Regions from separate parts of the Homo sapiens genome. Here regions 2 and 3 are each linked to region 1. Evidence: fine-mapped expression QTL. A gene starts in region 1. Each other region holds a variant in brackets. All regions are shown on one strand. Distances are between the middles of the regions. Region 1 holds the start of UTF1 (undifferentiated embryonic cell transcription factor 1). Region 2 holds the start of LOC105378574 (a long non-coding RNA gene). Region 3 has its middle 6.6 kb from the start of MIR202HG.

Region 1 (8,005 bases):
GATGTGCTCAACCCAGGACTGAAAACGAATCTGCCGGTCCACAGCGACGCCCTCTGATGCCGCAGAGAAAGGCCCGGGCCTGCCAGACGTGTGTCACAACTCAGGCCCCGCCAGGAGGAAAGCTACCGCCAGCACTCCCAGGCCGTGGGAACAAGCAAACGCACCGGCTGGGGCAGGAAACACTTGCTTCTGGTTGTGACTGCAAACAGCCTAAAAGAACGGACTCCCGTAACCACGCTCCTGTGTGCGCACATCCAGGCTCGCCCTCCATTGACAAAAAGGACGTCCCTCATGCTGGATGTGCAGTGTCTTCATCCAAGATCAGGACGGGCGTCTGTCCATCAGTTCTTACAGGCTATTTGCACAGACCCACGGCTGTTCTTGGGTCAATCTGCGCTAAACTCTGCCCAACCCAGCCAGTTCCCACCTGGCAGCCCTGTGGGCAAGACAGAGCTGGGTCCCCCGTCATCACGGTGCAAGCTCGCCGTAACTCTGACCACAGTGGAGCAGGAGGCCAGGACGGGGAGCTCCTGCAGGTGGGGCTTGTGGCCCGGGAAAGGACACTCTCACGGTTGTCACAGGGTAAGACTGGTGGACACCACTCAGGGAGGGGCTCACAGCCAGGGCTTCCAATGGTTTTGGGGTTGTAAACTGTGGATGCTTTTGGGAAAAGAGCTGATGGGTCTTTCGGGAAGTTCCCGTGATGAACGGTGCGGTTATCCGCCTGGAGGGAGGCCCAGGAGAAGCCGAGAAGACAAGATGGTGGAGTCCAATTGTGCTGGACAGGAGCTGCCCGAGACAGGGGGCCCTGGTCCTGGTCATGTGTGCGTCCTCGCCCCCACGCCATGCAGGCCGGACCCCTCACTGCAGTGGCTCCAATAAATTCAGCTCCGCTGAGCACAGGACTTTTCTCTTAGAGAGCTGACAGCCAGCAACCTCATGAGCCTCGCTTCTCGGCGCCATCCACTCCCCGGCTCTGTCCCCCACGCCGCCATCCACTCCCCGGCTCTGTCCCCCACGCCGCCATCCACTCCCCGGCTCTGTCCCCCACGCCGCCATCCACTCCCCGGCTCTGTCCCAGACGGGTTCAAGGCAGGCTGTGCTGTGCACTGCAGTGCCACTGTGGGCTAGACAGTCTGCGCTGGCGTCCTGTGCACCATCATCTCTGATCTCCACCCATCAGATGCCCCCAGCACCCCCAACCCTCAGTTATTAAAAATCTTTTTTTTTTTTTTGAGACAGAGTCTCACTCCGTCACCTAGGCTGGAATGCAGTGGTGCGATCTTGGCTCACTGCAACCTCCACCTCTTGGGTTCAAGCGATTCTCCTGCCTCAGCCTCCTGAGTAGCTGGGACTACAGACACATGCCACGACACCCAGCTAATTTTTTGTATTTTTAGTAGAGACGGGTTTCACTGTGTTAGCCAGGATGGTCTCAATCTCCTGACCTCGTGATCCGCCCGCCTCGGCCCCCCAAAGTGCTGGGTGTCAACAGGCTTGAGCCACGCGCCCAGCCTTTTTTTTTTTTTTAGATCCACCTCCCAGGTTCAAGCAATTCTCCTGCCTCAGCCTCCCTAGAAGCTGGGATTACAGGTGCACATCCAACGCCTCGCTAATTTTTGTATTTTTAGTAGAGATGGGGTTTCACCATGTTGGCCAGGCTGGTCTCAGACTCCTGACCTCAGGTGATCCGCCTGCCTCAGCCTCCCAAAGTGCTGGGATTACAGCCACCACGCCTGCACGCCCCCCTTTTCTTTTTAAGACAGAGTCTTGCCCTGTCACCCAGGCAGGAGTGCAGTCAGGTCATCACGGTACACTGCAGGCTTAACCTCCTGAGCAAAAGGACATCCTCCCGCCTCAGCCTCCCAAGTAGCTGGAACTACAGGCACCTGCTACTACACTCGGCTATTTTTTATTTTTTTGCAGAGATGGGGGTCTCACTATATTGCCCAGGTCAGTCTCAAACTCCTGGCCTCAGGAGATCTGCCCACCTCAGCCTCCCAAAGTGCTAGGAATACAGGTGTGAGCCCCGTGTATGAGTGCCTGGCCAGGAACCACAGATTTCTTGAGAAGTGTCTGAAAAGCTGATTCTAGGACCAGGGTCGGCAAAGGACCAGATGAGGCAGGAGCATCCTGTATTGCCAGGGAGCTGGGAGGGGGTTTCAAAAGGACAAGGAAGAGAGGAGGAGGTGAGAAGACTTTCAATGGCCAAAGCAGGAACGATATGCGCAAAAATACAAATAAAAGCCCGGCACAGGGGCTCACTCCTGTAATCTCAGCACATTGGGAGGCCCAGGCAGGAGGATCACTTGAGCCCAGGAGTTCAAGACGAGCCTAGGCAACATAGCAAGACCCTGTCCCTACAAAAAGTAAAAAAAAAAAAAAAAAACTAGGTGCGTGTGGTGGTGCACACATGTAGTCCCAGCTACCAAGGAAGCTGAGGCTGGAGGATCACTTGGGCCCAAGAGTTCAAGGCTACAGTGAGCTGTGATCAGGCCACTGCACTCCAGCCTGAGTGACAGAAAGAGACCCCATTTGTAAAAAATAATAAAAACAAACAGAACTTTTAAAACAAATAAATAATAACAGCATCGGGTTATGACCTAAAGGATAAAATAAATATACACGAGCCCACACTGTAGAAATAAATGACTGAGTAAATAAATCAACAGGCAGAGAGACAAACCTTACAGAAGAATCCCAGAAAATACAGACACCCCTCCAGGAGGTGGGGCCTAATTACTCTCCCCATGAGTTGGGGATGGGCTGAGGGGCCGGATTCCAGTGACCAGAGCAGGGATGGAAAGGCGATACCTGAAGACTGCAAGAGTGGCAGACAGTCCGCACCCCAGCACGGAGCAGACCTCACCGGTGCTGAGCCACAAGACAGGAGGGGCGAGACTCCACCCCTGCGCCTTCCTTCCTAAAACCCACCACCCTAGTCGGATCACAGGAAGACACCAGGCAAACCCAAGTCGAGGAACATTCAACAAAACACCTGGCCCGTCCTCAACCGTGTCGAGGACGCGAGAAGCTGCCACGGCCCAGAGGAGACCCAGGAGACAGAAGGACTCGGCGCCGTGCGGCAAGGAGGAAGAGCATTTAATAGGAAGAGAATTTCCTCCTCCCAGGGATGCTGGCTGCAGACGCGCTGCAGATGGAAGAAGTTCAGATTTTAAAAGCTACTTCTGCGAGCGCGTGAATTCCGACACCCATTCCCGCGGCTGGCGTGGCTTCTCCTCGGACCCATCCCCTGGCCTGGCGACTCCCCCTGGGACCCGGGTCGGTCCTCCGGACCCCTCGCGTGCAGGTGCTGAGCCCGGGCGGGGGCGGCGGGGGCGGGGGCAGCACTGGGGGCCGGACAAGGGGGCGCCAGCGCCTTCCGGAGCGGGAGGGGCTCCGCACACACCTCGACGGGGGCGGGGGTAGGCTCGGCACAGGCTAAAAACGAGCGGAGCCGCCGGGGCTTAGGCATCGCGGCACCTCCGTTGAACGGGTCTAAGAACAGAACTCCTGAGGACCCTCCGTTTCCAACCGAAGCCAGTCTTTGCTCTGCGTCTTCCCGGCCGCAGCGCCAGGACCGACCCCTTAGGACCCGGCGGGCGGGGCGGGGCGCGCGGGGCGGGGCGGGGATGGTGGGAGGGTCGCGTAGACCCGGCTGGGACGGAGGGACGGCGGCGCGGGATGCTCAGAACGCGTGTGGGCGGCCCGGGCGGCGTCTGGCCCTCTCCCCATCCTCGCGCGCCGCGCCCCAGCCCCGGGATGCTGCTCCGGCCCCGCAGGCCGCCCCCGCTCGCGCCCCCCGCGCCGCCCTCGCCCGCCAGCCCCGACCCCGAGCCGCGGACACCCGGAGACGCCCCGGGGACCCCGCCCCGGAGGCCCGCCTCGCCCAGCGCGCTGGGGGAACTCGGGTTGCCGGTGTCCCCGGGCTCGGCGCAGCGCACGCCCTGGAGCGCCCGGGAGACGGAGCTGCTGCTGGGGACGCTGCTGCAACCGGCCGTGTGGCGCGCGCTGCTCCTGGACCGCCGCCAGGCCCTGCCCACCTACCGCCGCGTGTCGGCCGCGCTGGCCCAGCAGCAGGTGCGCCGCACCCCCGCGCAGTGCCGCCGCCGCTACAAGTTCCTTAAAGACAAGTTTCGCGAGGCGCACGGCCAGCCGCCCGGGCCCTTCGACGAGCAGATCCGGAAGCTCATGGGGCTGCTGGGCGACAACGGGCGCAAACGGCCTCGCCGCCGCTCCCCGGGGTCCGGGCGCCCCCAGCGCGCCCGCCGCCCGGTCCCCAACGCGCACGCGCCGGCTCCCAGCGAACCAGGTAGGCGGGGGACTGGGGGGCCAGGTGGGGCCGAGGACTGCGGAGGAACCGGGGGCTGCCGAGGGCTGCGGGGGAGGGGCGGGCGCGCCCCGCGAAAATCCGCCCGACCGCCTGCTCCGCGTTCCCAGACGCCACCCCGCTGCCCACCGCCCGCGACCGCGACGCGGACCCCACCTGGACGCTCCGCTTCAGCCCGTCCCCACCGAAGTCTGCGGACGCCTCCCCCGCCCCCGGCTCCCCGCCAGCTCCCGCCCCGACCGCCCTCGCCACCTGCATCCCCGAGGACCGCGCGCCCGTCCGCGGCCCCGGGTCCCCGCCGCCACCCCCGGCCCGCGAAGACCCCGACTCGCCGCCCGGCCGCCCCGAGGACTGCGCGCCCCCTCCGGCCGCGCCCCCGTCGCTGAACACCGCCCTGCTGCAGACCCTGGGGCACCTGGGCGACATCGCGAACATCCTGGGCCCGCTGCGCGACCAGCTGCTGACCTTGAACCAGCACGTGGAGCAGCTGCGCGGCGCCTTCGACCAGACAGTGTCCCTGGCCGTGGGCTTCATTCTGGGCAGCGCGGCCGCCGAGCGAGGGGTCCTCAGGGACCCGTGCCAGTGAGTCCCGGCTGCGGCCAGTCTCCCCTCTCCAGGCCGAGGCCCCTCCGCCCTGACCCCTCCTGCTGCCTTCCCACCCCCGTTCTTGGGTATGTTCAATAAAAGGATTGTTTTCCTAGAGTCCGGGCTGTGTAGGAGTGCGGGTCTGGAGACGGGGAGGGAGTGGCGCCCTGCAGTGCTGGGGCTGCAAAGGTCAGGGCAGGGTTGCGACGCTCTCATCACAGAGAGGGGCTCCCACTCGCTCCTAAGGTGTAGACAGAGCTCCGTGGGGCGCACCCAAATGTAGGCCGAGGAGGCCAGGCTCGAGGGTGGTGGGCGTGGTGCCTGCTGCCGGGTCCTGGTCACACACTCGGTTCTCAAGGCCACACCAGACTCTCCCTGCCCCTCCCGGGGAGCCCCACTGAGTAAAACGAAGTGAACGGGTGGGCTCCGCTGGGGGTCCGGAGAGAACCTGAGGCTGACCCCACCTCTTCACTCAATGCAGGGGTAGGGGTTAGAGTGGTCGCCTCCACACTGCCCAGCAGAGAACCCCCTTTGACCCAGGAGTAGCATGGGGGGTTCCGAAGGTCCTCCCATGGCCTCGGGCAGCCTTGGACCACCCGGCTGAACTCTCCCAGGTCCTGGGAAACAAAAGGGGAAGAGAAGCCACAGAGCTCCAGGGAGGATGCTGGTTTTGTCTCCAGGGAGGTGGCTCTGGTCTGGGTGGGCCTAGGGAGGCGCTGAGCGTCTGGGGTGTGATCCTTGGGCAGAGGCTGAGGGCAGGGTCCTTGCAATTTTGAGAAAACCGAAGCAAACCTGCCCAGGAAGCATTTTCCAAGTAGCAATAGAGGGCCCCACCCTGGACCCCTGAGTCAGAAGAGGGATTGGCTGGAGCCGGAGATACAAATGTAGCCTGGAGGAGTTCCGCTAGCATAACAATGCCTGCAAATTAGTGGGCCCATCCAGAAAGACAAGTGGTTTGCCCAGGGCCATGCAGCTAAATGGGGCTGGGGGGGTCCCCGCTGGCCCAGCACCCAGCAGTCCTGAGGGGTTCCCTGTGGGTGGTATGGTTGCAGCCCCTCCTGCACATGCTTTTCTGGGTATCCAGAAGAATAGTTCCCGCTAGTGCTAAAGGCTGCTCCTGGGGAAATGAACGGCTTGCCCAGGTCTGAGGGGGAGGCCTGTGAGACCACGCCTGCAAGAACTGACTCCAAGCCTCACCTCATTTAAGAAACTGAGGCGCCGGACGCTGTGGCTCACGCCTGTAATCCTAACACTTTGGGAGGCTGAGGTGGGTGGATTGCCTGAGCTCGCTCAGGAGTTCGAGACCAGCCTGGGCAACATGGTGAAACCCCATCTCTACTAAAAATACAAAAATTAGCCGGGTGTGGTGGCGGGTGCCTGTAGTCCCAGTTACTCGGGAGGCTGAGGCAGGAGAAGTGCTGAACCCAGGAGGCGGAGGTTGCAGTGAGCCAAGATTGCGCCACTGCACACCAGCCTGGGCAACAGAGACTCTGTCTCAAAAAACAAAAAAACACTCTGAAGGCAGACGCGGTGGCTCACGCCTGTAATCCCAGGTCTTTGGGAGGCCAGAGGCGGGCAGATCACAAACGAGGTCAGGAGTTTGAGACCAGCCTAACCAACATGGTAAAACCCCATCTCTACTAAAAATGCAAAAATTAGGCATGGTGGCGTGAGCCTGTAATCCCAGCTACTCGGGAGGCTGAGGCAGGAGGAGGCAGGAGAATCGCTTGAACCTGGGAAGTGGAGGTTGTGCACTGCACTCCAGCCTGGGTGACAGAGCGAGACTCCGTCTCAAAAAAAAAAAAAAAAAATAGACACCCTAGGCCAGGCTAGGTGGCTCACGCCTATAATATCAACACTTTGGGAGGCCTGGGCGGAAAGATCACTTTGAGCTCAGGCATTCCAAACCAGCATGGGCAACATGGTGAGACCCCGTCTCACATCAGCTCCACCCTGCTGTGTTTCCTGAGAATCTTCAAGCTGCTAAAAGCCTGTTGGATGAGCCAAGCTTGCAAACATTCCCCCTCACATACACAGCCCCCAAAGGTCAGAGTCACAGGCTGAGGCCACAGTGGGGTCTGAAACAGAGCTTAGGTGCACCCTACATGACCCTGTCGCTCCAGAAGGTTACTGCTGACAGCAAGCCCAGGTCCAGACAGCCACATCCCAGCAAACACACCAGCACCCTAAGGGTGGGGGCTGTGCCGCTCTATCACTCGGGTTACTGGACACTCGGCCCTGGAGGAAGGACCCATCTCTGGGCTGGAGCAATTTAGGGGCACCAAGCAGAATTAATCTGCCTTCCTACTCAGGTAGTGGGGCAGGGGCCACGTGCTATGATCCTCCTGAGCCCGGTATCAGAATAATGAATCTGAATACATGGGCCCCGGACCTCTAATGCTTTCTAATCTGGTGCAGAGAGTGTATTTTGGCTGTTTAAATCAATCTAGGGGCCAGATGCGGTGGCTCATGCCTGTAATACCAGCACTTTGGGAGGCTGAGGCAGGAGAATTACTTGAGCTCAGGAGTTTGAGACCAGCCTGGCCAACATGATAAAATCCCATCTCTACAAAATACACAAAAATTAACTGGACATGGTGGCACGCACCTGCAGTCCCAGCTTCACTGGAGGCTCAGGCAGGAGGATCACTTGGGCCCTGGAGATCGAGGCTGCAGTGAGCTGTGATCACATGAGGCGCTCCGGCCTGGGCAACAGTGAAAGCCTGTCTCCAAAATAAGTAAGGCGCTCTGTAGGCATGGCAGGATTAGCCTCCTGTGTGCTGTTTAATGGGGCCAGTGTCTGAGCACAGTTGGTTTAGCGTTACCTTTTTTTTTTTAGATGGAGTCTGGCTCTTGTTGCCCAGGCTGGAGTGCAATGGTGCGATCTTGGCTCACCACAACCTCCGCCTCCTGGATTCAAGCGATTCTCCTGTCTCAGCCTCCCGAATAGCTGGGATTACAGGCATGTATCACCACGCCTGGCTAATTTTGTATTTTAGTAGAGACAGGGTTTCACCATGCTGGTCAGGCTGGTCTCGAACTCCCAATCTCAGGTGACCCGACCACCTTGGCCTCCCGAAGTGCTGGGAT
Region 2 (8,005 bases), 34 kb before region 1:
ACAAAGCCAGAGGCATCACGTTACCCAACTTCAAACTATACTACAAGGCCACAGTAACCCAAACAGCATGGCACTGGTACAAAAACACATAGACCAATGGAAGAGAATAGAGAGCCCAGAAATAAGGCTGCACGCCTACAATCATCTGATCTTTGACAGAGCTGACAAAATCAAGCAATGGGGAAGGACTCATGATACCAAGAATCAGGAAGATGTCAAACTGAATGAAAACAGGCAACCAATGATACCAACCTGGAGATGACAGAAATTTTAAAAGTGACTTTAAAATTTTTAAAGCAACCATCATAAAAATGCGTCATTGGGCAATTGCAAACACGCTTGAAACAAATGAAAAAGTTTCAGCAAAGAAATACAAAGTTTCAACCAAGGAATAGAAAAGAAAAAGAAAAAGCTAATGGAAATTTTAGAGCTGATTTTTTAAAAAAACTCAATGAATGGGCTTAATAGCAGAATAGAGAGGGCAGAGGAAAGAATTGGTGAAATGGAGACAATAGAAATTACACAGTTTGGACAACAAAGAGAAAATAGACCAAAAGAACTGAACAGAGCCTGAGAAGCTTGTGGGACTATAATAAAAGATCTAATATCCATGTCATCAAAATCCTGGAAAGAGAAGAGAAGGAGGGTGGTGCATAAAAAGTACTCAAAGAAATAATGGCTGAAAACTTCCAAATTTTGGCAAGACACATAAGCCTACAGATTTCAGAAGGTGAGAAAACCCCAAACATGATCAATGCAAAGAAATCCACACCAGGACACATCATAGTCAAACCTCTGAATACTAACCCTCCCCTCTCCGAAAAAATAAAAATAAAAATAAAAAACAAAAAGAGAGAGAAACAGCAGCTTACATATATACACATATGGGGGGGGAAAACAGTTCAGATGATCAGATTTCTCATCAGTAACTGTAGAGGAAGTGCATAGCATTTTTTTAAGTTCTGAAAGAACTTTCAACCCAGAAACCTATTTCCAGCAAAAATATCCTTCAGAAATTAAGGAAACAGGCTAGGTGCAGTGGCTCAGGCCTGTAATCCCAACACTTTGGGAGGCTGAGGCAGGTGGATCACCTGAGGTCAGGAGTTTGAGACCAGCCTGGCCAAGATGACGAAACCCTGTATCTACTAAAAATACAAAAATTTGCCAGGCATGGTGGTGGGTGCCTGTAATCCCAGCTACTTGGGAGGCTGAGGCAGAAGAATCACTGGAATCTGGGAGGTGGAGGCTGCAGTGAGCCCAGATACAGCCATTGCACTCCAGCCAGGGCGACAAGAGCGAGACCCTGTCTCTTAAATAAATAAAGGAGGAAGAAGGAAGAAAGAAGGAAGGAAGAAGAACAAGAAGAAGGAAAAAGGAGAAGGAAGGAGGAAGAGAAGAAGAAAGGAAGAAGATTGACAGAGTAATGTTTAGAAACATGACCTAACCATGTACTGTCTACCAGAAACTCACTTCAAATAAAACAATATAAGTAGGTTGAAAGTTAAAAGAGTTGAAAAAGATACATTATGAAAATGATAAAAAGAAAGCAGAAGTGACTGCATTAATATCAGGTTAAGTGTACTTCAGAGCAAAGAAAATTACCAGAGATAAAGAGGGACATTCTATAACAATAAAGGGTCAGTCCGCCCAGAAGACATAGCAATCCTAAACATATATGCACCAAATAACAGAGCTGCAGAATATGTGAAGCAAAACTGATAGAATTAATAGAGACACAGATGAATCCACAATTATAGTTGGAGATGCCAGTTTCCCCTCTCTGAACACTTGATAGAACAATCAGACTGTAAACCAGTAAAAATATGAAGGAACTCAACAACACTGTCAATCAACACGGCTGGATCAACATTTAAAGGACACTCCACCCAACAACAGCAGAATCCACATTCTTCTCAGTTGCCCCACTGACTATACACCAAGCTAGACCAAATCCTGAGCCATAACGCAAACCTCAACAAATTTAAAAGAATTTAAGTCATACAAATGTGTTCTCTGACCACAGTAACAAAAATAAAAGGGAAATTTTCCAAACACTTGGAAACGAAACAACACATTCTAAATACTCTATGTGTCAAAGAGAAAATTTCAAGGAAATTTTAAAAACATATAGAACTGAGTGAAAATGAAAATGCAACATATGGCGAACCAGGATTTTTGTGCCAATGGCGATGTGCTGGCTGAGATACTGGACTATATCAGTATCAGTATTTTGCAAGCTGCTACTGTTGTGGAAACTGGGTACAAAGTACATGAGCTCTATTATTTATTAAAACTATGTACAATTATCACAAAATAAAAGGTTAATTTTTTAAAAGTGTAACAAGTGCTCAAAATGGGTGATTTCCTACTTATCTGACTCTAGTTGGCTGTTCTATGCTCGTGGGGCTGTCTGCGTCTGCTGTGCCTGGATGGGGGAGACTCTGTAAAGGGGAGCTGCCTCTTCCCAGCTCCACACTCAAGGGCACTGCATTGGTAGCCAGAAGTCAGCCACGTGGGAGTACTTACACCAGGGAAAGCAGCAAACGCTACAAATGTCTTGTTCTGTTGACTCTCTGGACTTACTGAAGTGATGGAGAACACGTGGATGATGTGATTAAACTTAAAAGTGTGTCATGTCTGTGGCCGCTCCCTTGAGAATAGCCCAAAAGGTGGAGGACATGGTCTTACGATATCAACCGCGACCATCTGATTCAGCAAAGACGTCGCTCAGAGGGGTGCCCCGAATTCCAGCATGGGTCTGTCCGGCTTCACTTCCATCTCATTTACTGAAATGAATGAAAACATCAACCAACACTCATGTCAGCAGCACTCGTGTATTGTGGTGGACTGTGGATGAACATGGGTTTCATTGATTTTTATCAATGAAAGCCTTCAGTGAGAATTGACTGGCTCTGTGGAACTTACAAAACGTGCATCAAATGGTGTGCTGTGCATCCCTTACATCAGCAACGTGCCGGATGAACTCAGTTTGCACACAGGCGGTGTGTTCGCTCGGAGAGCCAGTTGTTAGCCATGTAGCAGCACGGCACCAGTCGGGGGGCTTCCGGGAGCAGGCACCAGTCGGGGGGCTCCCGGGTCCGTGAGGTGGGGGCTATGCTGGCCAGTTCTCCTCAAACCCTCGAGCTGCTGCCTTCGTGAGGAGAGTGGAAGGTGGGAAAGTCCAGTTGAGGCTTCCAACCCTCTGGTGTTTAAAACGCGGACAGAACCATGGGGGAGAGTTCGACCTGCAGGTTCCTGGACCACGACCTGGAGGCGGATGCAGGGGTCCAGGGTGGGGCCTGATAGATGCTGAGGAGGGGTCTTGAGGAGAGCCCCTCTGTGGGGGCAGTGCCTGGGTGCCCCTCAGGGTGCCTGAGGTGGGCAGGTCTGCTGGGCACAGCAGCCCACAGCCCTGCGGTAGACACTATTCTCTCCCCACCCGCCCAGGCCTCTGTGTACTGTGTGGCCGCCGTTCTGTGGACCGCAGCCAAGTTCAGCGTCCCCCGCAACCACAAGCTGGCCCTGCCACGCAGGCTCAAGACCCTCCTCCTGGACATGGCCAGGCGCAGTGCCCCGGAGCGGCCGTCCGCGGCTGAGGCCATCAAGGTAACCACACCACAGTCATGGCCCCAGCCCAGGGTCCAAGGACTGTGGGCAGTGGCCGCCCTCGCTGAGCTGGGGGTGGAGGAGCACGGGCTGCCAGTGTCCAGGTGATGAGGCCACCAGGTCTGTTTCTAGGTCCCTGTTTCTAGACGTCGGCCTGGCCGTCGCATGGGGAAGGGAGTGGGTTTCGCGTCATGGCCACGTCCATGTGGGTGGACAGCATGGGGGTCTCTGCTGCTCCCCACCATGGCCGTTCCTCCTGCGGAGCCCGCTCTCTCCAGCTTGTCCAAGAGGCCAGGGCGGGGGCAAGGGGTGTCCTGTGGGCACGTGCAGACCCCTGCTCTTAGGCCCTGCTGGAGGGGAGCAGAGAGAGGCCTCCACACCTCACCCCCCACCCCGAACCCCCACCTCCTCTGAGGATCCCACCAGCCCCGCCCCTCCCTGCCTGGTCTCCCTGCTGGACTCAAGCTTTGGGGCTGGGTTCTAACGTACTCCTGCTGGGACCTGCACCCGCACCCGGCATGGGGACCAGCGGGTGGACCAGCAGGTGGGGCAGGAGCCAAACTCTCATGTGTCAGTGATCAGGAGGACCTCCTGGGGAGGAGCCGAGCTGGGTGTGGGTGATCAGGAGGACCTCCTGGGGAGGAGCCGTGTCTGGGGGAGCGGAGACGGCCATGGGGTTGGGGACCTGGGTCCAGCCGTCTCCGCCTCGACTGCTCTGTGGTCTTGGGCGGGTTGCTCAGACCCTGTGGGCCTCTCAGGCCTCCTCTGCTGCAGGAGGATGAGATCTAGACACGGCTGGGCGTCTGCCAAGCAGTGAAAGCAGATTTTATTCAGTAACTACTGAGAGCTGGGGAAGCTGAGCTCAGTTCCCA[T/C]GTGCACAAGGCCTGAGCTTATAAAGGGAGGACAGGAGTGGCCGGGGGCAGGGAGCGTGGGGCTCAGGCGAACGTGACCAAGGGCTGCCAGTGTCCAGGCGACGAGGCTACCAGGTCTGTGGCCAACGCTGGGTTTGGGATTCTGCCCTCCCAGGGAGCCTGGGGGACAGTGGCCGACTGTGAGCCCTTTTCAGGAAATGCTCTAAGAAAGGCTTGTCCGGGGCCTGTAGTTGGGTGTCGGTGAGAACAAACAGGAAACCCTCCTGGCAGCCCTGAGCTTTTTCAGATGGGGACCCAGTGACACGGGGACGGTGCAGCCGTGGCTGAGGCCTGTCGGGACGTGTGAACTGTCTCCTCCCTCCAGGTGTGCGGCAGCTACCTCCTCCAGCGAGGCATGGACAGCCGGAAAATCCTTGCCCACCTCAGAGCTTCCATCTGCCAGGTGGGCTAGAACAGCCAGGCCGCCGCCTCCTCCGCCGCGCTTAGCTTCCTCCCTCCTGGACGCACTTGCCCTTGCCTGGCCGCTCCCGGCAGCCCCACACCCCGGTCTCTGTTGACCACCGAGCTGTGGGTGGGTGCATCTGGGGGTGCAGGGGGACACTCGAGTCCCATCTAAAGGCCCCACAGTGGCCCCCAGGGACCCAGATCAGGATCAGGGCAGGGTCCCAAGGACGGCGGCCCAGCACCCACCCCGGGCGCAGAGAGCTTTGGGAGTGTGGGCCCTGAGTCTCGGGTGGTGCTGGCGTCTCCCACTCCCTGGAACCCACGGAAACCTGGTTGGCTTGGGAGGCAAAGGAGCCCCAACGGCTCCCTCTCCAGGCAGAGCCGCTGCAGAGCTTGGGCCGTGTGGCCGCCATGCCCGGCTCCTCCCCAGCAGGAAGCTCCACGGCACCGGCGGGTGGTGGGGGACGCCCTGTGGGTGTTGCCGGCGCTGGCGGAGCTCCGTGGTCACCTGGCCCAGGGCTGTCACCTCCTCCCCAGGTGTACCAGGAGGAAGAGACCATCAGCCTCCAAAACGCCTTCTCAGTGGTTGAACTGAAGCCCAGTGTGGCACCAGCCCCAGAGCCCAGCCCAGGTGGGGACCTGACCAGCCCCTGCTGCCCCACCAGCTCCTGCACCTGACACCACAGCTGCCCCCACCTCTGCATGGACAGACACAGCCGGGCACCTCTCGGAAACCCGGGAAGCAAGTCCAGAGCTCGGCCAACGTGGCCCATGCAGCCCAGCCTGCCTGCCCCTGCCAGCCCCCATCTCCCAAAACTCCCAGTCGCTCAGGCCCCAGCTCCAGGTTCTCACTCCCATCTCCCAGCAGCTGGCCCTCCCAAGCCCACATCTGGAGACCCCCAGAGTCCACACAGAGCCCACCCCACCCCCGTACTGAGCCCTGCTCAGCAGGCCCCTCCAAGGCTTCTGGTGGGGCCTGGTCTTGCTGGCCCGTCCCCGCCTGCTGGCCCTCCCCCAAGCACCAGTCTCACCCACCCTCCCATTCCAGGGCCCAGCACAGAGGAAGCCCCCAGGGCCATGCGGGAGGGGACGCGGCACCACGCACTGGGTGGGATGAGCACTGGGTGGGATGAGCCGGTGGTGCGGCACGTGCTGGGGCCACTCCGCCCGCCCACACCCTCAGCCCCCTGGCTCCCCAGGCTTCCTGCCGGTGAACAGCGACACCGGGCTTGTGGCTGTGCCAGGGCCCGTGCCCGGCCAGCACCCCTGCGGTGAAGAAGCCACCCAGCTGCCTGCAGCGTTCACCTCCGAGGCCACGCACTTCAAGCCCATTGTCCTCGCGCAGAACGCAAGTGTGGCCAGGTGAGCATCGTCCCCACACCCCGGAGCTGCTGGGTCCCGGGCGCAGGCAGCCCCTCCTGAGCTCTGCTCCTCCCGTAGGGACCAGCCTGCCTTGGCCCAGGAGGAGTCCGAGGAGAGGGGCGGCCAGAGGGAGGGAGAAGGTGAGGAGAAGCTCTCCCTGGAGGCCCACGCTGGGTCCCCCAGCCTGAAGACGCCTGACGGGCCGGTGCCTGGTCCGGGGCCACAGGGAGCAGCCCCAGAGCCTCTTGGGGCGTCAGTGCAGCGTGACTCAGCCCAGGGCCGCCCCTGCCCTCCACCCCAGGCCCCAGCAAACCAGCCAGAGGGGGCCTCATCGGCAGCTCCCGGCTCTCCAGTCCCCGCCCCGCCCACGAAGGCATCTGCGCTGCCCGTAGAGCAAGGGCCGGCTGAGCCGATCCCACCTGGAGTTGCTTCCGGGGGCCTCAGGCCCGACGCCCTGGGGCCCACCACGGCCCACCACGGCCCACGCCACCCGCCCAAGCCCCCACGAAGCAAGGCCACCGAGCGCCCGGGCCAGGAGCCAGAGGGCCCCGGGGCCACCCCTGCCGGGGAACGTGATGACCAGAGTCCAGACAGTGTCCCAGAGAGGCCGCGGCCCGCAGACCGGAGGCTCTGTCTGCCCTGCGTGGATGCCTCGCCACTCCCAGGGAGGACGGCCTGCCCGTCGCTGCAGGAGGCCACGCGCCTCATCCAGGAGGAATTTGCCTTCGATGGCTACCTGGACAATGGGCTGGAGGCTCTGATCATGGGTACGTGGGGGCCGCAGACGCCCCAGAGGAGGCCCGGGCCAGGGAGAGCCCCACAGGGGACTCGGGGCCGCCCCACGCCCTTCCCCCAGCCCCCCAGCCGAGATCAGCCTTGTCCGTTTCATCAGCCACAAGGGAACCAGATGAGCAGCCCTGCCACCATCTCACTTGTCTCCATCGTTTTGCAAAACCAGGGGAGTACATCTTCGCCTTGAAAGATCTCACCTTTGCCACTTTCTGTGGCGCCATTTCCGAGAAGTTCTGTGACCTGTACTGGGATGAGAAGTTGCTGCAGAACCTCTTTAAGGTGGTCAACGGGCAGGCGTCACCCTCCCCAAGGTGGGTGCCCAGTTCGGCCCTGCATTCCCGCCCCTCCCTGATGCCCACTGTGCCTGGGCTCTGCTGCCTGACCCGGGCCCAGCCTTCCCCTCCCAACCCTCCGCTTCCATCTCGCTGCTGTCTCCAGAGGGGCTACCCTTGGTGGAGATGGGTGGGGGTCCCAGCAGCCCCTCCTTGGGCCTGACGCCTACTCACAGCTTTCCCATCGGACCTGGGTTTCTTCTGGAGGACGAAAGGGCTTTCAGAGAATATGAGGCAGGGGCTCTCCGGGAGGCTGCAGGGGGCCTGGGCAGTGATGGCCACAGGGCTCCCTGCTCAGAGGGACCAGTGTGAGGGCCCCAAGGAGGTGAAGAGACTCCCAAACAGGTGGCCCCAGACCCCACAGGGCCCAGCACTGAGCTGTGTTGGGTGGGGCGGCGGCCACCCCACATTGCCTTGCTCACAGCTCCACGCGGTGCCAGCAGCCCGGGCAGCTCCTCCGCGTGCGTGTGGAGTAAACACAGCTGTGAGCAAGGGCACCCACCCCAGCCCCGGCCTCCTCGGCCCCGCAGCACTGAGAGGCTGCTCCCGAGTCCCCCCAGGGACCCCAAGCAGTGAATGACCCAGGGATCCCGTCGG
Region 3 (8,005 bases), 24 kb after region 1:
GACAGAGAGAGAGACAGACACAGAGAGACAAAGAGAGAGAGACACGGACAGAGATAGAGAGACACAGTGGGGAGACAGAGACCGAGAGACAAAGACACAGAGACAAAGAGACAAACAAAGAGACAGAGACAGTGGGGAGACAGAGAGTAGGGAGATAGAGACAGAGACACAGAGACAGTGGGGAGACAGAGAGGCAGAGACAGAGAGACACATACAGAGAGAAAGAGCAGGGAGACAGACAGACACACACAGAGAGACACATACAGAGAGACAGAGACAGCGGGGAAGCAGGGAGACAGAGACAGAGAGACACACACAGAGAGACAGAGACAGCAGGGAGGCTCTGGGCTATTCTAGGGCATCGCCCAGTCCCTCACTTGGTTTCCCTAACTTTTTTCTGGATTATAAACCCACACCTGCTGATCAGGAAGACTTTCATCATCCACACGGGTTTAAAGGGGCTTCCAGGGACCGGAGGGTCGGGCTGCGCACAGGTGTGGGGACGGCCACCCTCTGCTGCCTCTGCAGGTGGAGGAGCCCAGGGCCCGTCTTCCTGCTGGCCCCATCGGCTGGAGCCTGGGAGCTGGGGTGACAACTGGGTGGGGGCCCAGACCCCCCTCTGTTTCCCCCTAGGCCTCAAGGAGCCACAGAAGGCTGTGGGCCAGGCAGTGGGCAGAGGGTGGCCGTCCTCACACCTGTGCGCAGCCCGACCCTCCGGTCCCTGGAAGCCCCTTTAAACCCGTGTGGATGATGAAAGTCTTCCTGATCAGCAGGTGTGGGTTTATAATCCAGAAAAAAGTTAGGGAAACCAAGTGAGGGACTGGGCGATGCCCTAGAATAGCCCAGAGCCTCCCTGCTGTCTCTGTCTCTCTGTGTGTGTCTCTCTGTCTCTGTCTCCCTGCTTCCCCGCTGTCTCTGTCTCTCTGTCTTGTGCTGTCTTGGGCTCGGGCTGCCGGGTGGAACTGGTCAGAGGGGCGGCAGCCGAGGGACCAGGTGTCAGTGTCGCCTGGCCATCCTGGCTACGAGCCCTGGAGGTCCTGAGACCCCTCAGGGGATTCTGTGAGGTGACGGGAGGGACTCAGAGCAAACCCCAGCCCCTGAGGGCCGAGGGACCACCCGCAGGTGGACCCCAGGCTTCCCGACAGGCACACCCCACACACCTGCCCCCGTCCCGAGCTCCCTGTGGCTCCCCAGTGCTTTGAATGAAACCCAGCCTGTGAGCAGGAGGACAGGGACCCACCTCACCCACTGGAGGCCGCACAGCCTGGCTCCCACCCATCCTGGGGACCTCCTGCCGGAGATTTGCAGAGTAGGGGTGGAAGGGCCTGAAAGCAGAGGAGCCCCACCCGGGCATCCTTCCCACCATCCCGGGGCCTCCTGCTGCACCGCCAACCCCGAGAAGGCCTCAGCAGTCCAGCCAGCACCAGCCGGGGACTGTGTCCTGGTCCTTCCCCCATCAGCAGGGGTCAGGATGACCACCTGGGCAGGGGCCCTGCTGTGGGTCCAGACACTCCCTGGGTGCCTCAGACCCCAATAGCAGCCCCTCCACACCAAACACACCGGCCACCCTCCCTCCCTCCACCAGAAACAGAAAGGATCTCTGTGGGTCTGGCAGACGTGCTTGGCACGGAGCTGGCGGTGATAACGGGTGGCCTTCAGGCGGCTCCACTCCCTCCATTCCATTCCTTGTGGGGCCCGGTGGAGGCGGGTGGCGGGGGTGTCCCTGCAGCTGTCTCTGGCCAAAGGCAGCCCACTGTTAACCCTTGGTGGACTCTCCCTGCTGAAGTTCCCAAAGAGGGTGGCCTGCTCCTCCTGCATCGCATGTGGAGACCTCAGTCTACACTGGCCACACCCTGAGGCTGGGCCCAACCCTGCCCAGCAGCCCGTCCTGCCCCACACCTCATCTTGCCCTATCCCACCCTGCACCCCACCGTGCCCCGCTCTGCACCCCGGCCCGCCCTGCACCCCATCCCTCCCTGCACCCCAGCCCGCCCTGCACCCCGCCCCACCCTGCACCCCAGCCCACCCTGCACCCCGGCCCGCCCTGCACCCTATCCCTCCCTGCACCCCAGCTCTCCCTGCACCCCGTCCTGCCCTGCACCCCGTCCTGCCCTGTACCCCATCCCTCTCTGCACCCTGTCCTGCCCTGCACCCTGTCCCACTCTGCTCCTGACCCTGCCCTGCAGCCCCCACCCCATAGGTCCAGTGTCCCGGGAGTCAGCACTTCCCTCAGGTTATGTGCTGGTCCCACCGACCCCTGAGTTGCAGGCCGGGCGATGTCAATGGCTACCCCAGAGAAGCAGCCGAGGCCTAGAGCAAAGCTGACCGCTCCTGGACTCAGTTTCCCCACCTGTCAAAGGAGGTGCTGGAAATAGAGTTCCCTCGGAGATGGACAGAGTCTTACAAATGAAACCTGTGTCCACCGTGTGACCTGGCAATTCCACTCCTAAGCATTTACAAAGAGGAATGAAATCATCCGTCCCCAGAAAGACTTCAATAAGAACATTCTGGGACGGGTGCGGTGGGTGGCTCACGCCTGTAATCCCAACACTTTGGGAGCCTGAGGCAGGAGGATTGATTGAGCCCAGGAGTTTGAGACCAGCCTGGGAAACATGGTGAGACCTTGTCTCTACAAAAAATTAAAAAATAAACTAGTTGTGTGTGGTGGATGCACCTGTGGTCCCAACTATGCGAGACTCTGAGGCGGGAGGATCATCTGACCCAGGAGTTCGAGGCTGCAGTGAGCTGTGATGGTCCAAGGCACTCCAGCCTGGGTGACAGAGCGAGGCCCTGTCTCAAAAAAAAAAAAAGAAGGCTGGGCATGGTGGCTCACGCCTGTAATCCCAGCACTTTGGGAGTCTGAGGCAGGCAGATCACCTGAGGTCGGGAGTTCGAGACCAGCCTGACAGCCTGACCAACATGGAGAAACCCCGTCTCTACTAAAAATACAAAATTAGCCAGGCGTGGTAGTGGGCACCTGTAATCCCAGCTACTCGGGAGGCTGGGGCAGGAGAATCGCTTGAAACCGGGAGACAGAGGTTGCGGTGAGCCGGGATTGCGCCATTGCACTCCAGTCTGGGTAACAAGAGTGAAACTCCATATAAAAAA[A/G]AAAAGAAGAAGAAGAGAAGGAGAAGGAGAAGGAGAAGGTCTTCAAACAGGAACCACTCCAAGTCCCCAAGTCTCCTTCATCCACACAGAAATGGATAAAAAATCATGATGACTGTACAAGAAAGAAGCAGACACACAGGGTCTCGGGCCTCCCCAGAGCAGGCCAAACCACGTGGGGTGACAGGGCCCCCCCGGTAGAATGTTCCGTGGCCTGAGGATGAGGTAGTTACGCACTGGACGCATTTGCCAGAGCCCTGGGCTTGTGCACTTGAGACTGTTTATTCCGCAAAAAATAAATAAAATAGAAATAAAACTTGGGGCTGTGCGGCGGAGCCGTGGGGGTGCCCGCTCTGCGGTGGTCGGCTGACCCTGGGATGCCCTGGTCAGAATAACACGGGGCCCAGGGTCAGATGTGCGTCTCGGAAGAACACGGACCATTTCTTAGGATAAATATGTCCCATGAAATATTTAGGATGCATTCACACTGTAAGTTTTCATTGTTTCACTGAAATTTGAATTAATTGTGTGTCCTGAATTTTTACTTGCTACGTCTGGTGGCCCCACACCGAGTTTATGGAGAGGGCATGAGCTTGGAGCAGTGACCAGGACCCAGGTCGGTTCGTCTGTCTTCAGGGGGCTCCCGGGATCCAGGTCAGACTGAGGACCTGAGGCGTGCTGGGGCTGCCCCAGATCATGTGTGGAGGGCAGTGCAGCTGAGTGACCGGGCCCTGAGGCTCCTGAGGCTCTGGGACCCCATGGGATGTCCCCTTGGGAGCCAGGCCCTGGAATCTGTGCTCCAGGCCGGCTGTAGGGGAGATGGAGGGCTGGGCCTGTGCCCAGAGGCTGATCACCGCCTGGCTCCTGGCAGGGTCTGGGATGGTCTCAAGGGGCTGGTGGGCCAGGGGCTCAGCTGAGCCACCATAGGCAGCCCCCAGCCCCGGAGGGAGAGGGAAGCAAAGAGTTAATCCCCGGCCCTGGGAGAGCCCTGCCCTAAGCTCAGGGCTGGCGTTTCAAGGCTGCGTGTCTGTGACTCCCTCAGAGGAGATAATCACGGCTTCTTGATATTTTCTTTCTCTTCTCCTGTGCACACCCACATATCAGGAGCACTCGCTGGGCCATGAGAACTTTCCTCTGCCCTCCAAGGCCACGGCGGGCGGAAGGGGCCAAAGCCATTTTGTCCAGGAGCCTTTGTCCCCTGGGATTGCCTGGCCAGGAGCTGGGGCCACCGGGCTGGACCCCGTGTCTCATGTGCACACGTGCCACCCAACACACACACCACACATGTACACACTACACATATATATACACACCCCACACACCACACACCTACACACCACACACATACACACCACAAATACACACCCCACACACCACACATGTGCACACCACATATATATACACATCCCACCTGTACACACCACACATGTACACACCACATATATACATACCCCACACACCACACCACATGTAGACACACACCACACACATATACACGTCACATGATGTGTTTAGTACTACACACACACACCCCACACTCATACAAAGCACACTACATGCACACACACACACTTGCAGAGCCTACCCCTTTCTCCACCACCTGGGTCTGGACCCCACACTCGGCCCAGGTCCCAGTCCCAGGTCTCAAGCCCTTGTGTGGTCACTGCCGTCCGCTGCCAGGGGCTGGGGGTCTTTCTCACTGAGGACAGGGCTGAGCTCCCCCAGGCTGAGGAGGGCTCTGCCACCTCCAACCCCCGCTGAGCGGCTGCAGTCCCTGCTCAGTCTCCTTGGGTCCTTGGTGCCCCGAGCCGATGCCGGGGCTGACCCTCAGCAGCCCCAGTTAGGCTGGCCTCAGTTGGGTCTCTGCGTGTTCCTCTGGGAGCCACAAAAAGGCAGGTGAACTCGGCTCCACACTCCGCACCCAGGTCCAGCTGCCGGCACCGCTTGGTGGCCACCCAGGGCGAGGGTGGGATTACCCAGGATGCACAGCCCCTCTGCCCCGCGGTCCCGCCGCCCACCCTCCTTGACACCCCGCCACCCCTGCTTGGGCAGCCACGGGGAGCTGTTGGAGGGTGGAGTTCAGCACAGAAGGAGACAAAGACCTCCAGGGACAGATGGGGTGGGGGCCACCCTGCCAGGGCACTCTGGCCTCTGGACACCCCCATCAACCCTCCCCGGTCACATGGCTCTGTTTTTCCTGGCGAGGGCGTCGCGTGGATGGTGGGTGAGGCCCACATGCTGGGGGTCAGCGGTGCACACGATTCAGCCACGTCCACAGCTTTTCTTTATTTCAGGGTCTCACTCTGTGGCCCAGGCTGGAGTACAGGGGTGCAATCTCGACTCACTGCAGCCTCCACCTCCCAGGCCCAAGCGATCCTCCCACCTCAGCCTCCCAAGTAGAGGGGACTACGGGCACCATGCCGGGCCAAGTTTTGTATTTTTTGTAGAGACGGGATTTGGCTGTGTTGCCCAGGCTGGTCGTGAACTCCTGAGCTCAGGTGATCCGCCCACCTCGGCCTCTCAAAGTGCTGGGTTTACAGGCATGAGCCACCGCACCTGGCCTTCAGTGGCTCTCTGAGGAAGTTATATATATTTGTTAAACATACGTGTCCTTCTCAGAATCTGTGAGAAGCGCAGATACAATTGTCAACAGATTCCAGAAACACGGGGAGCAGCAGAGCTTTGCCGCCGCCTCTCTCCAGCAAGCTTTGAACAGCCATTGTTTTCATTTATTCCTGCTTGTAAAACGACACATTGTTATGATGGAGAATTGTGAGTACTGCAGAAAAGAAATAAGTTTTGCCACCAAAGGCGATCACTGTGGATCATGCCGGTTCCTGCACACCTGTGGGGTGCTCTGAGCGTGGACTCCCCACGCGAGCCGTCCAGACGTGCTCAGGGTGGCCTCCCCTGCTTACTCCTTTGTGCTTTCATTGCTAATAATTTTAGTCAGTCGTGTCTGCTCTACTAATTTACTATTTGAAGTTATTTACAGCTTGATCTAAAGAAGCTGGCCAGGCGCAGTGGCTCACACCTGTAATCCCAGCACTGTGGGAAGCAGAGGCAGGAGGATCACTTGAGCCCAGGAGTTCAAGACCAGCCTGGGCAACACAGTGAGACCCCCATTGCTACAAAAAATGAAAAGAATTACGCAAGGCGCAGTGGCTGACGCCTGTAATCCCAACAGTTTGGGAGGTAGAGGCGGGCGGATCACCTGAGGTCAGGAGTTTGAGAGCAGCCTGGCCAATATGGTGAAACCCCGTCTCTACTAAAATACAAAAATTAGCCGGGCGTGGTGGCGGGCGCCTGTAATCTCAGCTACTTGGGAGGCTGAGGCAGGAGAATCGTTTCAACCCAGGAGGTGGAGGTTGCAGTGAGCTGAGATTGTGCCACTACACTCTAGTCTGGGCAACAGAGTGAGACCCCTGTCTCAAAAAAAAAAAAAAAAAAAAAGGAAAAGAAAAGAATTAGCTGGGCGTGGTGGCACGTGCCGGAGGCTGAGGTGGGAGAACGGCTCCAGCTGCAGTGAGCTGTTCTCCGGCCTGGGCAGCAGAGCCAGATCTGTCTCAAAAATAAAAAACAAAAAACAGAAGCTTTAAGAGATTTTTAAATTCATTTTTACTTTTTTTCTCCTTCATCTACCCAAGATTGTACTCCGTGAGGGGGTTTTTGAAGTAAATTTCATGACAGCACATTATTCAGCAGTGAGTTTCGGACCATATGTTCCCATTTTTACAACTTTTGTGCACCCTAGGGTGTTTTCCCCTAGGAAATTGTTGTTATATTTCACACATGCAAAAATAAACGCCAGGTGATGTGAGGGGCACCCACACCCACCTTCCCGCTGAGAAATGCAGGCCGCCCCCAAGGGGAGCCCTCATCCTGCAGGTTTCCTCCCGAGTCCTGGAATTCTAAAATGCGCTCCTTGCACCTGGGACTCTTCCTGCCAGCTCCACTGGGGAAAGCTCCTCTCCACCTCCCCTGCTCCCTCCGGGCCTCTCACGGCTCCCCCCGCCCCTCCTCTGCCCCAGGGCCTGTGCTCCTACATCCCGGCAAGCCGCAGCCCCGACACTTCCTCCTAATTTCCTGACACTCCCCACTCCCTGGCGGGACGTTTTACTCCTTGCTCTCCTTCCCACTGGAGGGCGCGCGCTTTCTAGCTGGCCGCGTGGGCAGGCAGAGGACCAGGTGCAGGCGGGCGCCAGAGGACAGAAGGTGGAAGTCAAGCGGTGTCTTGGCCGTCCAAGGTCCCAGCACAGGCACTCAGAACCCCTGAGCCCAGGGAGCTCCCAAGGGTCTCACTCTCCTCTGCGGTCTTTGCTGGCCGAGGGCAAGGCCGGGTGAGGACGGAGAGAAGCAGCTCCTCCCCACCACACACCCAGAGCTGGGAGGGGCCAGGATTCAGCACCCTCTAGGGGTGGGCACGGCAGACGCGGTGGGGACCTGGCGCTGAGGTCCTGGCTCCCACTCCAGCGTGGCCTGGTGGCTTCTCCCCGGTTGGGGTACCCTGCACAGGGGTTGTGGTGCCTCCCAAGGGCCAGCCCCGCCCTGACAACCTCTCCTCCAGCCAGGATGGGGTCCATACTCCATCGAGAGGGTTCCTGGCTTCAACACCCTCCACCAGCCTCATGCCACCAGGGCCCTGGTCATCCTGGGGACCCTGCAGAGGGCCTCCTGGGCCTGTCTTCCGGCGGGTGAGCCGGCCCTGCCTGTGGGTGTCTGGGGTGTGGCCTCCAGGCACCAAGCACCCGCTGGCTCCTGATACCTGCCTTTCTGGCTGTGGTGTGTCTCTGGCCTGGCGCCTGTTTCTGAGTCCCTGGAGAGAGCAGGTTCCTCGCAGGTGGCAGGCAGCCCTGTTTGTGTGTGCATGAGCCTGTGGGGGCACCTGGAGCTGAGCGGT

Evidence for each region. PIP is the estimated chance that this variant, and not a neighbour inherited with it, causes the effect.
Region 2: its variant is fine-mapped to the expression of UTF1 in blood mononuclear cells (TOPMed, PIP 0.92).
Region 3: its variant is fine-mapped to the expression of UTF1 in whole blood (TOPMed, PIP 0.96).

The regions. Positions count from the first base shown.
Region 1 is chr10:133,226,527-133,234,531 of GRCh38, forward strand. UTF1 (undifferentiated embryonic cell transcription factor 1) reads left to right here and starts at 3,691. Exons shown (of 2, transcript NM_003577.3): 1 at 3,691-4,312; 2 at 4,441-5,032. The coding sequence starts at 3,763. The coding sequence ends at 4,916. RefSeq lists enhancers at 3,673-4,472, 5,273-6,072.
Region 2 is chr10:133,192,216-133,200,220 of GRCh38, forward strand. KNDC1 (kinase non-catalytic C-lobe domain containing 1) reads left to right here. Exons shown (of 30, transcript NM_152643.8): 10 at 3,448-3,606; 11 at 4,843-4,920; 12 at 5,460-5,553; 13 at 6,122-6,284; 14 at 6,363-7,051; 15 at 7,243-7,387. LOC105378574 (a long non-coding RNA gene) reads right to left here and starts at 4,121. Exons shown (of 2, transcript XR_946511.3): 1 at 2,926-4,121; 2 at 2,272-2,786. LOC105378573 (a long non-coding RNA gene) reads right to left here. Exons shown (of 5, transcript XR_007062351.1): 5 at 4,981-5,059. RefSeq lists an enhancer at 7,388-8,005. The variant T/C (reference allele first, on the strand shown) is at 4,479.
Region 3 is chr10:133,250,443-133,258,447 of GRCh38, forward strand. No RefSeq gene overlaps it. Among named protein-coding and RNA genes, the nearest start is that of MIR202HG, 6.6 kb to the left of the region's middle. RefSeq lists an enhancer at 7,596-7,895. The variant A/G (reference allele first, on the strand shown) is at 3,109.